2 separate regions of the Homo sapiens genome follow, and region 2 is linked to region 1. A link means that fine-mapping ties the variant in region 1 to the expression of a gene that starts in the linked region. Tissue or cell type: monocytes after R848. Region 1 holds a variant in brackets; the other region holds the start of a gene. All regions are shown on one strand. Distances are between the middles of the regions.

Region 1 (8,102 bases):
CACGTGCCACCACACCCAGCTGGTTTTTGTATTTTTAGTAGAGATGGGGTTTCACCATGTTAGCCAGGCTGGTCTCGAACTCCTGACCTCAAGTGATCTGTTCGCCTCGGCATCCCAAAGTGCCGGGATTACAGGCGTGAGCCACCGTGCCCAGCCCCCCTTATTATTATTACATACATATGGGTGCCTTTAAATAATGTTTAAAAGGAACAACCCTACTGTGGTTTGAATGTGTGTGTCTCTTCGAAATGTGTGTTGAAATTTCGTTCCCAATGCATGAGGTGGGGCTTTTAGGAGATGACTAGGTCAGAGGGCCTTGCCCTCATGAATGGGATTAGGGTTCTTATAAAAGGGCTGAAGGGAGCCTATTTGTCCTTTTCATCCCTTTCTCCCTTTCCACCATGTGAGGAGACAGCATTTGTCTCTTCTGGAGGACGCAGCAACAAGGCACCATCTTGAAAGCAGAGATGGAGCCCTCACCAGATACTGGATCTGCCAATCCCTTGATCTTGGACTTTCCAGCCTCCAGAACTGTGAGAAATAAATTTCTACTATTTATAAATCACCCAGACTAAGGTATTTTGTTATAGCAGCAGGAACAGACTAAGACAAACGCTTAAAGGAATCTTGAAGAAGAATCTCCGGGTGTAGTTAAAATATACGGTTTGAACCATTCCCCTAAGTAAATTCAGGTGGAATCCCCATGTCATGGATGATGTGTGTCATTTATAGAAGTGATCTCTCTAGGGAAGGATGAGTAGTGGGTGCCTGAGGGGGATTTAGGGACAGCCAAGGCTGGTTGTAATGACTAGGGCAGTGTCTCAATTTGTATGACCAGTACGTGATGACATAGAATAGGGTTTTCCAAAGTGGGCACCGCTGTGGTACTCAGATGCTTCTAGTAGTCCAGAGACCAAAGCTGGTGTATTAGGCCATTCTTGCATTGCTATAAAGAAATACCTGAGACTGAGTAATTTACAAAAGAGGTTTAATTGGGTCATGGTTTTGCAGGCTGTGCAACCATGGTGCCAGCACCTGCTTGGCTTCTGGGGAGGCCTCAGGGTGCTTTTATTCCTGGCTGAAGATGAAGCGGGAGCAGACATGTCACGTGGCCAGAGCAGGAGCAAGAGAGAGAGTGGTGGTTGTGAGGGGTGCCACATACTTAAACAACCAGATCTCCTGAGAACTCATTTACTATCACGAGGACAGCACCAAGCCATGAGGGATCCGCTCCCATGACCCAGACATCTCCCACCAGGCCTCGCCTCCAACACCAGGGTTTACAGTTCAACATGAGATTTGGCCAGGATATATATTAAAATTATATCCGTTGGTCATTAGGTCTACTGGCCACACCATTCCTGCTGATCCTGTCTGTGGTGGGTCAGCTGACTTGAGCCTTCAGTGGTCTGGCCATTCTGTTTCTTGCTGAAACCAATTAAATGCAGGCGAATTTGCCAGACTACAGCCCTGTGAGGGTGGGAACTTTGTCTTTTTCACCACTATATGCCCAGCCCCTAGAATTGTGCCTGGAAAACAGCGTGTGCTCAAAAATGTATGTTGAATGAGTGAATAAATGAATGACTGAATGAAATTGGCCTCCTGAATTATTCACCCAACTCCCGACAGCTTGATTAATGAAGTAAGCTGATAAAGAAGTTTCCAGAGGCTGAGGGCAGTGGCTCATGCCAGTAATCCCAGCACTTTGGGAGGCCGAGGCGGGAGAATCACCTGCGATCAGGAGTTCAACCACCCTGGCCAACATCGTGAAACCCCGTCTCTACTAAAAATACAAAAAGTTAGCCAGGCGTGGTGGTGCGTGTTTATAGTTCCAGCTACTTGGGAGGCTGAAGCAGGAGAATCGCTTGGACTCGTGAGGCGGAGGTTGCAGTGAGCCGAGATTGTGCCATTGCACTCAAGCCTGGGCAACAAGAGCGAAACTCCATCTCAAAACAAACAAACAGAAGTTCCTGGAAAGGTAAGGCCTGAACTAAAGCCCCACCTGGAAAGATGCTTTATTGACTGGCTGATGAATAAGAAAGACCCCTCCCAACCCTGCCCCTTGCTGCATGGAGCAAATTGTCAGGGGCCAGACACCTAGGCTTCATGGTGCTGTGCCAGGAGGTCGTAGAGGGCCAAGCTGCCCCTGCCTAACTCCTCTATCTCTGCTCCCTGATTATCAATACTCCTCTGGCACATCCAACAGGGCTCCTAGGTTGTTAAGTGGACTCAAGGCCCGGGCAGGCTTAGGCTGCAGATTGGCTTCTGTCTGAAGTTCCATCAAAGAGAGAAGAGCAACATCTCAGAAACATGATGAAAGGCTCCTGGGAAGCAGGGTCTGATTTTCAAAAGGTCATCTACAGCCCACATCAAGAGTACCTGCTGTTCTCAAAGGACAGGGCTCTAAACAGAGACTGCAGCTATTTCCTTCTCTGACATTCAACACAGTGACTAGAACCAGGCAAAGGCACCCAGAGGACCATGGCAGCCCATCCTGGAGTTGAGAGGGCTGGATGATGGGGCCCTGAGGGAGAGACAGCACTGTCTTGGGCTGTTATAGTCAGGATCTGCCACATGTCCTAACAGGGCTGGAGGAAGGGTCCTGATATGGTTTGGCTGTGTCCCCACTCAAATCTCATCTTGAATTGTAGCTCCCACAATTCCCATGTGTTGGGAGTGACCCAGTGGGAGGTAATTGAATCATGGGGGCAGGTCTTTCCCATGCTATTCATGTGATAGTGAATAAGTCTCATGAGATCTGATGGTTTTATAAAGGGCAGTCTCCCTGCACAAACTCTCTTCCCTTGTCTGCTGCCACGTGAGACGTGCCTTTCACTTTCTGCCATGATTGTGAGGCCTCCCCAGCCACGTGGAACTGTGAGTCCATTAAATCTCTTTCTTTTGTAAATCGCCTAGTCTTGGGTGTGTCAGGTATGTCTTTTATTTTTATTTATTTATTTTGAGACAGAGTCTCACTCTGTTGCCCGGGCTGGAGTGCAGTGGTGCTATTTTGCCTCACTGCCGCCCCTGCCTCCCTGGTTCAAGCGATTCTCCTGCCTTGGCGTCCCAAGTAGCTGGGATTACAGGCGCTTGCCACCACGCCTGGCTAATTTTTGCATTTTTAGTAGAGACAGGGTTTCGCCATGTTGGCCAGGCTGGTCTCAAACTCCTGACCTCAGGTGATCTGCCTGCCTCAACCTCCCAAGATGCTGGCATAACAGGCGTGAGCCACTGTGACCGGCCTGGGGTATGTGTTTCTCAGCAGTGTGAAAGTGGATTAATACAAGTGCCCTGCCTGTCTTGAGAGACAGTAGAAAGACACTGTCCTGGGAGTCCAAGGCAGGGCCTGTCCCCATAGGGAGCACAGGGTGAGCAGGACAGAACCAATCTTCAGGGGGAACTTTCCAGAGCCGTGGATTGTTGGACTGACCGCTCCCTTGACTGAAGGAAGGTTCGAAGAAGGCCCTCCAGCCCGAGGTGTGTCCTGAATCAGGCCCTGGGGATCATAGCAAGAACCAGCAGGCCCTTTCATCAGAGCCCCACTCTCTGGGCATGTCACAGCTGTGCCTAGGAGGGCTCGCTCTCTCTCCTCCAGTGGGAACACAGCAGGGCCAGTAGGGCCTCCGAACTGGGCCCATCTTCCTCAAGCTGAGTTCGTCAATTTCCCCAGGCCCAGACTGTCCCCCTGAGCCTTTGCCCAGGAGCTGCTTTGCCCACAAAGCCTTCTCACCCTGCCTTCTTGTTGCAGATTAAAGGGCACCTCCACTGTAATTAGATCCTTTTTCAAACAAAAGAACTATACGTAATGTCCTTGAAATAACTGGGGAAATTTGAATATGAACTGGGCATTGGATTATCAAAGAAATATGATGACCTACGTTTGGTGTGATAAAGGTATCCCTATGTAGGAAATTATCTTTGTGTGTTCTTTTTTTTTGAGACGAAGTCTCGCTCTTATCCCCCAGGCTGGAGTGCAATGGCATGATCTTGGCTCACTGCAACCTCCGCCTCCTGGGTTCAAGCGATTCTCCTGCCTCAGCCTCCCAAGTAGCTGGGATTATAGGCATGTGCCACCACGTCTGGCTAATTTTTGTATTTTTAGTGGAGAC[G/A]GGGTTTCACCATGTTGGCCAGGCTTGCCTCAAACTCCTGACCTCAGGCGATCCACCCGCCTCGGCCTCCCAAAGCGCTGGGATTACAGGCGTGAGCCACCGTGCCCAGCTATCTTTGTTTTTAAAAGGAGGCCGGGCGTGGTGGCTCATGCCTATAATCCCAGCACTTTGGGAGGCCAAGGCGGGCGGATCAAAAAATCAGGGGATTGAGACCATCCTGGCCAACATGGTGAAACCCTGTCTCTACTAAAAATGTAAAAATTAATCGGGCGTGGTGGTGCACTCCTGTAATCCTAGCTTCTTGGGAGGCTGAGGCCAGAGAATCCCTTGAACTCGGGAGGCGGAGGTTGCAGTGAGCCAAGATTGCGCCACTGCATTCCAGCGAGCCAAGATTGCGCCACTGCACTCCAGCCTGGTGACAGAGTGAGACTCTGTCTCAAAAAAAAAAAAAAAAAAAGGAACACTGAGGTATTTGGGGGTGAACCTCTGCAATGTCTGAAGTTTACCTTAAAATCCTTCAGAAGGAAGTTAGAAATAAATCTAGCAAGATGCTAATAACTGTTAAGCCTGGGTGGTGAGCATGTAAGGCTTTCTGTATGTTTGGAAATTTATATAATATAATGTAGGAAGAACCTCCGAGAGGCCTTCCCTGATTCCCTAGAACTGGGTTGGGTGTCCCTCTCATGGGTGACCGTAGTTCCTGTCCTGGCCCGACATCAGTCACCGGGACACTTAGAATTCTGAATTCAACTGCCTGCCTTTTAAAATTAGGTTAAGACCCTTGGGGGTACCCCCAGAGAGTCTGACAGAGAGTAGATGCTAATACAGGAATGCTGGAAAGAAGGAAGGAGGAAGAGGGAGGAGGGAGGGAGGCTGCAGCCCCCAGCTCCCGTCTCAGAACCAGGCACACAGCAAGTCCTCAACTCTTGTTTATTAGGCTGAATTTTCTTTTCTATTTTTTTTGAAACGGAGTCTTGCTCTGTCACCCAGGCTGGAGTGCAGTGGTGCAATCTTGGCTCCCTGCAACTTCCACCTCCAGGGTTCAAGTAATTCTTGTGCCTCAGCCTCCTGTGTAGCTGGGAATACAGGCATCCACCACCACGCCTGGCTAATTTTTATATGTTCTTTTTTTAGTAGAGACAAGGTTTTGCCATGTTGGCCAGGCTGGTCTTGAACTCCTGACCTCAAGTGATCTGCCCGCCTCAGCCTCCCAAAGTGTTGGGATTACAGGCATGAGCCAGCGTGCCTGGTCTAGGCTGAATTTTCTAGGAGGAAGCCGGCTCTCCTGTCTTCCTTTTCCTTGAGGGTTCTATCAGTGTCATAGTCAGAAGACAGGCTGGGTTTTGTGGCCGCCTTCCTTTTCTGTGTCCCAAGCCCACCCTCAGCCAAAGTGCTGTTGGAAATTGAGGCTGAATATTTATGCCCACCACACAGAAATGTGTACATGAATTTTTTTGTTTGTTTGTTTGTTTGTTTTGAGATGGAGTCTTGCTCTATTGCCCAGGCTGGAGTGCAGTGGCGCGATCTTGGCTCGCTGCAACCTCTGCCTCCCGGGTTCAAGTGATTCTTCTGCCTCAGCCTCCCGAATAGCTGGGACTACAGGCGTGCGCCACCACGACTGGCTAATTCATGAATGTTTTTAGCAGCAGTATTCATGATAGCAAAAAAGGTCAAACAACCCAAATGTCCACCAACTGATGAATGGATAAAATGTGGTGTATCCATACAACGAAATATTATCTGGCAATAAAAGGGAACAAAGTTCTGATGGATGCCACAACAGGGATGAACCTCAAAAACATTACGCTAAGTGGAAGAAGCCAGTCACGAAGGGTCACATATTATGATCACATTTATATGGAAGGTCCAGTGTAGGCAAATCCACAGAGGCAGAAGACTGATATGTAGTTTCCTAGGACTATGAGAGTTAGAGGAAGACAGAGTCTCGCTCTGTCACCCAGGCTGGAGTGCAGTGGCGTGATCATGGCTCGCTGTAGCCTTGACCTCCTGGGCTCAAGCAATCCTCACACATTAGCCTCTCGAATAGCTGGGACTGCAGGTGCAAGCTGCTACGCCTGGCTAATTTTTGTATTTTTTATTTTAGTAGAGATGGGTTCTTGCCATGTTGCCCCGGCTGGTCTTGAACTCCTGGGCTCAAGTGATCCTCCCACCTCTGCCCCCAAAGTGCTAGGATTATAGGTGTGAGCTACTGCACCCAGCCAGTAGGAGTTTTTTGGGGGGGATGACAAAAATGTTCTAAAATTGATTGTAGTGTTGGTTGCAGGACTCTGAATATACCAAAAACCTCTGAATCGTCACTTTAAAAGCATGAATTTTATGGTATGTGAATTATATCTCAATCAAGCTGTTATTAAAATATATATATATATATGGCCATTATCCAGCCTGTGCTGCAGGGTGATAAGGCAGAACGAGATGGACGTGGGGTTGGCTGTCTTCCCAATTTAAAATAGAACAATAAAAGATGAGCTGGGGATGTGGGGCGAGTATGTAACAGGGCCTATAAATAAGACCTTGGCTTGTAGCTGTCAGATGCAAGGTGCTGATGAGGGCTGCTTATCTGTGACCTTGCAAGGAGCAAAGTTTGATCTCAATCTATTCACTAAACAGCCAAGTGTGATGCTGTGGAGATGGGGAAGACGAAAACTCCTCCTGTGGTGCCAGAAAGATATAATTAAAAATATAAATCACACTTTCCAGGCTTGGAAGACATTTATCATGTAGCTTTCCAGAGGCATTGCACAGACAAGGCAGTTTGAATAATTCCATGAATTACCTTGGAAAAGAGAAGGAGGGGGCACCTCCAGAGTGGTGGGCATGGTGGAGAGGGGGAAGGAAGGAAGGAAAGAGGACAGATCAGTAGCAACGAGGGGGAAGTGGGTATTGTTGTGGATTCCCAGCCTGGTGGTCCAGGCCAGGACATGTGTGGTGAGCACACACAGCATTAGACATTTTCTTAATCAGTTGTCATAAGAATACGAGCTCCAGGAGGGCAGAGATTTTTGTTTGTTTTGTTCATTGCTGCATCCCCATGGCTGGTGTGCCACAATTTTTTGTGTGTACATGTTGAGTAAATGAATATTTTAAAATTAGAGTTGACTTCCACCTCTGGTGAAGATGGAATAACAGGGACCAGTCTGAAACAAGTAAAAAACTGGACAAAAGATTTCAGTGAACCAAAAAAGGAAAAACAAAAAAAAAAGCTGGACAAAATATAAAACAATGGTTTTCAAGACATTGGATGTCACGCAATGGATCTCAAGGACAACAATCCTTGAGAGAAGAGAAATAGACTGGGTGTGGTGGCTCACGCCTATAATCCCAGCACTTTGGGAGGTCTAGGTGGGAGGATCACTTGAGGCCAAGTGTTCAATATCAGCTTGGCCAACATGGGGAAACCCCGTCTCTACTAAAAATACAAAAATTAGCCAAGCGTGGTGGTGCATGCCTATAATCCTAGCTACTTGGGAGGCTGAGGCAGGAGAATCACTTGAACTCGGGAGGCGGAGGTTGCAGTGAGCCAAGACTGCGCCACTGCACTCCAAGCTGGGCAACAGAGCAAGACTCCATCTCAAAAACAAACAAACAAACAAACAAACAAACAAAGAATATCCTATGGCTAAGGGAGAAGACCCACAGCTGGAATTCAGACTTTGTGGGGCAAAGTGAAATTACGGCCCACTGGATAATGAAGTTCACTGGGTTGTCCCAGGCCACAGCTGGTCCACAGTTGCTGGACAAACAGAAACTCCCGTCTGGGGTGCAAGCAGGTAGAGGTTGGTGGGCACAGAACTATGGCTAAGATTGGCAAGCAAGAAATCTCCCCATCAGGGTACAGATGGACTAAAGCTGGAAAGTGAACCACCATGGGGCCTGTGGGACTCACTGAGAATCTGCCCACGGGGACTGCTGAAACTTGATGGGAAGCTGTCAGTGAGGATAATTCTAAAATTTGGTGAGGGTGAGTACCAC
Region 2 (8,102 bases), 160 kb before region 1:
GAGTCTCGCTCTGTTGCCAAGGCTGCAGTGCAGTGGTGTGATCTCAGCTCACTGCAACCTCTACCTCCCAGGTTCAAGCGATTCTCCTGCCTCGGCCTCCCGAGTAGCTGGGATTACAGGTGCATGCCACCTTGCCCAGCTAATTTTTGTATTTTTAGTACAGACGGAGTTTTGCCATGTTGGCCAGGCTGCTCTCGAACGCCTGACCTCAAGTGATTCACCCGCCTTGGCCTCCTAAAGTGCTGGGATTACAGGCGCAAACCACCAAGCCCGGCTGAGAAGCTCAATGTTTTTTTACATGGATGATGGTTTACTAAGGTGCTACTAAAGTGACAAATGTGATGGTGTACTCAGAACATTTTCTACCGGGTTACAGAAGATGTTCTGTGGGGAAAAAGTGAACAAAAATAGATAACATCGTATTTTTATACCGTTGTATTTGCTGTATGTTTGTACATGAGCAAAGATTATAAGATATTGATAGAAAGACTGTCTAAAACCAGCTGTGTTGCTCTAAGGCAGGGAAGTTTGAAACCAAACATGGGATATAGGTAAAGATAGAAAGGAAAAAAAAAACTGCTTCTGGGAAATATTTCCAACCAGTAGTTTATTATTCACAAACTGTGATTCACCAGTCCTATTTTTTAAGCCAGCATCACGCTCTAATCATATTCCTAGGTTACAAGCCCAGTTATTTGTGCATAATAAAAACTGAATCCATTAAGATGATACATTAGGCTTTTCTTCCCTATGTCATCTCTTTAGGGAGACATTTGATTATAAAACCTACAAAATATTGAACCTACATATTACTTTGGATCCCGAAACCAAAGAGGTTTCCTATGAAAATGAAACAGTTATCCAAGGATTCTTTCACCTGAAAAACGGAGTCCAAATCTGGGGCAGGCAAATAATGAAACCCTCAGACCTATGCAAGTGACACTATTCCATCCAGACATGAAGAAACTTTAATGCGGCTCACTAGATTTATGTTCGGAAATATGGGCTATTGTTGAACTCTCTCTCGAATAACTCTCAGATACATTTTTCTCCTGTGCTCTGAGAAGCTACATTACTGCAGAAGGCTGAATAGGCAGGCAAGTTAATGAAACAATACACATGTGCACAACTACAGTTTAATTTCATGATCAGCAGCCCTGATAACAAACTCAATGAACATTCTACTTATGGCCTCAGTATAAACACTTGATATCGCCTATTAGGATAATTAATGCAGGTGATCACTGTCAGAATAAATGATAAGCAAAGACATTGCTAGTTAAGACTCATCTATCAGATTACAGTGTTTCTATACACACATGATCCTCAGTTCTCGGTGACTTTTTAAAAACCTCCCTCTAAAACCAAAATATTGGCTAAATGAAAGAAATCTGATATCTTATAGCTTTTAAAAAAAAAGGTACTTTGCCTCACATTGTACTGATCTCTTTGGTAATTGAGAGATGTGGCACCTAAATAACCATAAAATGAGGACTGCTGACAGTGATGATGTAACCCTAACCAACTCTAGGAGCAAGATATAGGTCTAGGAAGAAAGGAAAAACTCACTGACTAAATAAGCACATTCTGGATTAACAAAAGACAGCCTCAAGTGCTTAATAATACCAATGTTATTGCGTTTTGGATCTGGTAGCCTAAAGTCTCAACTCATAATGAGTCAATGTCTGGCTCAATAAGACACACACTGAAAGAAAATCACAGTATTGCCTCCAATGCAATAGTTACTACATCAATCAAAAAGAAATATCAAAAACTATTTCTTGCAGAGGCATAGTATAACATTCAAAAAATGATGGCTTAGAGTAAAAAGCATCTTTGGAGCATAAAGAGAATTTACATTTATTATCTATTAAGCACGTGTGAAGGTGGTGCCTTCTTTCACATGTTAGCTGTCCCCATTTCACCTATCAGGAAGGAGTCTCTAAGAAGTAAAATCATGGCCGGGTGCGGTGGCTCATGCCTGTAATCCCAGCATTTTGGAAGGCCAAGGTGGGTGGATCACTTGAGGTCAGGAGTTCGAGACCAACCTGGCCAACATGGTGAAACCACGTCTCTACTAAAAATACAAAAATTAGCCGGGTGTAGTGGTGGGCTCCTGTAATCCCAGCTACTCGGGAGGCTGAGGCAGGAGAATCGCTTGAACCCGGGAGGCGGAGGTTGCAGTGAGCTGAGACCACACCATTGCACTCCAGCCTGGGCAACAAGAGCGAAGAAACTCCATATCAAAAAAAAAAAAAAAAAGAAGTAGTAGTAGTAGTAGTAAAAGAATATGCCTAGGGCACAGCTAGCAAGTGACCAGTTAGAACTCAGGTTTGTCTGATTTTATACCCACTGCGTTCTGCACATCACTGTTGCCTGGTTTAACTGCAAACTTTGCTATGAGTTTCATTTACAATTTTAAAATAATAATTCTTACTATGTTTGGGGGTAAAAACCCTTGGGAGAAAATTCTAGGAGTGAAATTCTGACCTTTCTTTTTTTTTTTTGAGACAGAGTCTTGCTCTGTCACCCAGGCTGGAGCACAGTGACTCCATCTCTGCAACCTCTGCCTCCCAGGTTCGGGTGATTCTCCTGCCTCAGCCTCCCCAGTAGCTGGGATTACAGGCCTGCGCTACCACGCCCGGCTAATTTTTTTTTTTTTTTTTTTTTGTATGTTTAGTAGAGACAAGGTTTCACCATGTTGGCCAGGCTGGTCTCAAACTCCTGACCTCAAGTGATCCACCCACCTCAGCCTCCCAAAGTGCTGGGATTACAGGCATGAGCCACCGGGCCCGGCCTGACCTTTCACCTAAATATAGTTACGCTAAACTATAACCTTTTGATAAGGGTCTGGAATATTTTATCATGAACTCTGAGAAGTTTGGATTTCTAAATACAAATTGGAAATATTTACACGAACTGAAACTATAGTTCCAACTACAGCTAAATCGTTATTTTTGGCTCTTTAGCCTAAGTTATTCAATAACCAAACACTAGAATCCAGTGACAAAGTAGCAAAAGGAAAGATGTGGCAAAGGAAACCATTATACACCTATCCCTTGACGTTATGAAATGATCGAATTCATGTCAAACATTTGGTCATTCTGCTTATACCTTCGTTTGTGAACAGATGCCAGGCAGTAGTTACCAATCCAAGGTGAGGTGCTCAAGTTCAAAACCTGACCTTAGTTGTAAAAGTGGGGTTTTTATTTGAAAGAAAAACTTAACTTCCACAAGTTCTATTATAAAGAGTCTACAAATTTTCCTTTATTTAAAAAAAAAAACCCTGAATTTGAAAAAGGCAACCTTATTTATTTACTTCTCCTGTTTCCAAATTCTTGTTACTCCAAGAGTACAGACAGTTATTTACCTAAAATGCAAAACCTCCAAAGAGTTCACACGGTGGCTGGCACTCAGGCACACACATGTCAGTGCTCTACTGGGACACCTGGTACATGATATCCCTATTAAAGAGTACACAGTACCTTTAAAGAGGTCATTAAACAGAACACGGACAAATTTGCCACGCTCACATCCTGAACAATACATTTTGTGAAAAACATTCGCTAATTTAGGTTCTTCCAACCAGAAGAAAAAAAAAAGCCAAGTCTCCCACAAAGTGCCCCCAAATCCACAGCTGAGTGAAGGTCATAAAGAGTTAAATGAATGTAAACCAGGCCCTATCATTCGTCTCCTCCAGAAAAAGATGAAAAGACATTTCTGATGGCCCCAGGTGCTCTCCCACGAGGAGACAGTCTTTCATTTGAGGTTCTGAAGCGGCCTCACCTCGAACCCATGCGGGATCTTCCAAGAGTGCAATTCCCACAGCTCCACTTGCTCAAGGAAGTCTCGGTGCACAGAAGGAAGCCTGCAGCCTCCCAGTACCAAGAAACCGGCAGGGCAAGTGGCAGAAGCCAGCTCTCGGGTGAGAGTCCTTACTCCCTGTTGCATTCGTTCCCCAAAGTTTTCGAATTTTTAAAAAGTTCAAACAAGGATTCGAAGCGCAGGACAGACCCTTCCCCTGGATCCCAACGCCCTTTCGGCTCCTCCGCGGCCCCCGCCAGGCAGCGCCGGCGCCCGCCCGCGAGGAGGAGGGTCCCGCAGGTGGGCGGCCTCCTCAGGCCGGGGCCTTCTGGGACCCCCAAGTGCCGTGCAGGACGCCACGAAGTTGCGCCCGAGCCCGCGGGGTCCGGGGAGCCGCTGCCCGTGACAGCCGCGCTGGCTTGGGAGGCTCTTCGGGCGGCCGACGCCTCGGTGGGGCCGCGACTCCCGTCAGGGAAGCTCTCCCGGCCCGGTGCCGCCTCCTACGCCCGGCCCGAGCCTCCCACGGCTGGGCTCACGGGGCATCTGGCCGCCGCCGTCGCGCTCCCAGCTCGGACTCCAGCCCCGGCGCCGCGACGCTGCCCCGGCCCCGACCCGGCCGTCGCGAGCTGTCCTCCACCCCACGCTCCCCGGTCACTCACCCCGAGGCCGGGCAGCAGCAGCGTCAGCAGCAGCAGCAGCCGCCGGGCCGGCATGGCGAGGACTCGGCCCTGGCTCCGGGGGCGGTACGGACAGAGGACGGGGCGGGGGCGCCGCGACGACAGCGAGGCGGTGACCGAGCCTCAGCGGACGCAGAACTGACTAGGCAGCGGCGGCACCCCCATTCCCGGCCCTATAAGCGCTGGGTGCCGCGGCTTCTTCCGGTCGGGGCGGAGTTGCGGGCGGGGACGGGGCGGGGCCAATCTAGGGGCGTGTTCGGGGCGGAGATGGGGGCGGGCCGAGGGCGTGCCCCGGGCGGGGATGTGGGAGGGGCTGGCTCGGGGCGGGGCCGAAGGCGGTGCTGGCATCTGGCTGGCTTCGCTCATGAGGCGTCGGCGGCTGTAAAGGACCAGGCCTCGGCATCCAGCGTCTGGGGGCGCTGGGGGATCGAGGCGCGAAGCTTGTCTGTGGCTGGGAAAGACCGGCAATGCCCCACCAGGCCGTCCCATTAACCCTGCCGAGGGACCTGCCGCGTCAGACTTCATCGGGGAAAAGGGCGGGACACGGGCGGTCCCGGGTGCCTAGAAGCCTCCTTTTCGTCTTTCCGCCGTGGTGGAATCATCCGCAAGGTTTACCGAGGCGACCTCCGGAGCGAAGGTTTCAGCAGCTACCGGAGGCTTCCAGCAAACACGGCGCAGCTGCCCCGCGCGGCAGTCGCAGTGTTCACAGCCCTAGGGTTCTCCAGCTGTGCCTCGTCTTCTCTGGGGCCCCTTTCTTCCTTTTCCTTGCCCTCAGGAATTCCCCTCAAGTCATATCCACCAGCCATCACTTCCGCTTGGAATGAACCACGGCCAAGTCACTCACCAAAAATTATAAGGAGGAAACCATTTCGGCCACTTGTGTCACGTGCGTTGATGTGACACGTGTGGATGTGAAGTTTGAGATGGTCTGCGTCACAACTCGTTGGAGGGAGTGGGTGGGTTGAGGCCTCCTGCAAGGTCTATGTGAGGGTGTGGAGTACTAATTAGAGTTAAAGAGCTCGGCAGCTGTTTGGTCACTGGCACTGGCCTCCACTGAGAGGGACATGGGTAGGGAGGACACGTCTTTTGCAAGGAAAGACAGTAAACTGAGATTTGGAGCCCAGGGAAAGGTATCTAACTTATCCTAGGAGAAAAAGAAAACGGCTATGAAATTCTCTAATTTTTCCTGACTTGCTTATATGAGAGCCTAAGATTTTTCAGGTTTGAAGGAAAAGAATAAGCACTCCTAGACAAAACAACAAAGTAGTAGTGGGGGACTGGCCAAATGTCCAGTCTGTGTGCATTGTGGTCAATCTTATCCAACTAAAACAGACCAAAATGACAGTAAGCCCAAATCCTGCAAATAGAGCTCCCCATTCCTAACCCCCTAGGCCTGGATTACAGTGAAGGGACTAAGTCCTACCGCATGCTGGAGACTCCAACACATCTCTGTAAGAGTGGGAAGAATCTTGGCAACTGTGAAAACAGTAGAGACATTTTGAAAAGTGTTACCTGAATGTCTAAATGCAAACAGAGGTTTGGGATTGGCAGAGAGATGTACTGAGAGGCCCAGCACTCCTGAGCAGTATAGCCGGGCTTCCAGGGAGGCCTACAGCCCTGAAACTGGGAGGAGCTCTTTATTTCTTGACCTTTTATCTTTTCTTTTTAGAGATGAGGTCTCACGGTGTTGCCCAGGCTGCTCTCAAACTCCTGGGCTCAAGAGATCCTCCCCAGTAGCTGGGACTTCAGGTGTGCCCCACGACACCTGGCTTGGGAGGACCTCTTTAGTGATTACCTGTCCAGTTTGCCAGCTGACAACAGCATCTGTTAGACCCTGTATACTTGACTTAAAAGAGAAGCTTGACTGAAAAATGTCACTTTCACATCCCCCCCTCTGGTGCTTTTTCTCAAACAGAGTAAGTCTAGGAGGGGAAAATTTGCTGTACTGGAACTCTGGCAGCCCTTTTACAATTCAAAATGTCACTGTGACCCTGTAACATCAGCAGATGAAACACAAAGGGGAATGCTGACCTCAATTTCACTCATAAATCAGTTTTAAAGATCGTAGAAAGAAAAAAAATCTGTTCCAAGAAGCCTGGACAGTTAGGTATTATTTATCTTACACTCAGTTGGACCAAATCCCCAGGGCTTAATTGCACTGTTACATGTTCTCTGAATTTCTTTCTTTTTTTTTTTTTTTTGAGACAGAGTTTCACTCTTTTGCCCAGGCTAGAGTGCAGTGGCACGATCGTGGCTCACTGCAACCTCTGCCTTTTCGGTTTCAAGCGATTCTCCTGCCTGAGACTCCCGAGTAGCTGGGATTACAGGTGCCTGCCACCACGCCTGGCTAATTTTTGTATTTTTATAGAGACGGGGTTTCACCATGTTGGCCAGGCTGGTCTCGAACTCCTGACCTCGTGATCTGCCCACCTCCGCCTCCTAAAGTGCTGGGATTACAGGCGTGAGCCACTGTGCCCGGCCCCATTCTCTGAATTTCTTATGCATCGTCCACATGCTTCATGCACTTCTTCACTTGATTGGCAATCCAGACAGATAAGCACTGGTTTTATTTATGGTGGCATTGCCCATAATCTTGCTCTACAGTCAAGTACTTCTTTAGGCAGCTTTTTGCTTATGATAAAGTAAAAGCTGATAGCACTGATAAACACAAACAGAAATGGAATATTTTGTAGGGTGCCTTTGAAGTGGACCTGACCATATAAAAGACCTGCAAATGGGCAGTAAATGACCTTTCTGCAAGTCACATTAAATAACATCCACTGAATAAAGCAAAGGTCATGGTCTTAGTGTAAAGATAAGGCCTCTTTTCCACCAGTGTAAGAAACATATATACATCAGATTCAACAAAGAAGTACAGCAGGATCTGACTATGGGGAGGTGGGAGAAAATCTTATTTTCACTTCCCTTTAAACCACTGGTTCCCAAACTTGGAGAGCTAAAAAAACAAAACAAAACAACAACAACAAAAAACAGATTTCCAGGCCAGGCATGGTGGCTCACGCCTGTAATCCCAGCACTTTGGGAGGCCGAAGCAGGAGGATTGCTTGAGATCAAGACCAGCCTAGGGAACATGGTGAGACCCTGTTTCTGTAAAAAAAAAAAAACAAAAAACCAAAAAATTAGTCAGGCATAGTGGTTCACACCTGTAGTTCCAGTGACTTGGGAAGCTGAGGTGGGAGGATGGCTTGAGCCCAGGAGGTCAAGGCTGCAGTGAGCTTTGATCGTGCCATGGCACTCCAGCCTGGACGACAGAGCAAGACCCTGTCTCAAAAAAATAGAAATAAAAAGCTGGGCATGGTGGCTCACACCTGTAATCCCAGCACTTTGGGAGGACGAGGCAGGTGGATCACGAGGTCAGGAGTTCAAGACCAACCAGCCTGAGCAACATGGTGAAACCCTGTCTCTACTAAAAAAACAAAAATTAGCCGGGCGTGGTGGTGTGCGCCTGTAGTCCCAGCTACTTGGGAGGCTGAGGGAGAAAAATCTCTTGAACCCGGGAGGCAGAGGTTGCAGTGAGCCAAGACTGCGCCACTGCACTCCAGTCTGGGCGACAGAGTGAGACTCCATCTCAAAAAACAAACAAAAAAAAAGAAATTAAAA

Direction of the effects. Alleles are on the strand shown, and positions count from the first base shown. SD is a standard deviation of normalised expression in the study named.
With allele A in place of G in region 1, the expression in monocytes after R848 of the gene that starts at base 4,632 in region 2 is lower (large effect, 1.0 SD a copy in Quach 2016).

Evidence for each region. PIP is the estimated chance that this variant, and not a neighbour inherited with it, causes the effect.
Region 2: ERN1 starts here. The variant in region 1 is fine-mapped to the expression of ERN1 in monocytes after R848 (Quach 2016, PIP 0.95).

What each region holds. Positions count from the first base shown.
Region 1 is chr17:64,283,232-64,291,333 of GRCh38, forward strand. No RefSeq gene overlaps it. Among named protein-coding and RNA genes, the nearest start is that of TEX2, 24 kb to the left of the region's middle. RefSeq lists a silencer at 6,458-6,752. The variant G/A (reference allele first, on the strand shown) is at 4,110.
Region 2 is chr17:64,125,513-64,133,614 of GRCh38, forward strand. ERN1 (endoplasmic reticulum to nucleus signaling 1) reads right to left here and starts at 4,632. Exons shown (of 22, transcript NM_001433.5): 1 at 4,464-4,632. The coding sequence starts at 4,517. RefSeq lists silencers at 4,143-4,592, 4,683-4,812 and enhancers at 5,233-5,432, 5,483-5,532, 6,437-6,496, 8,092-8,102.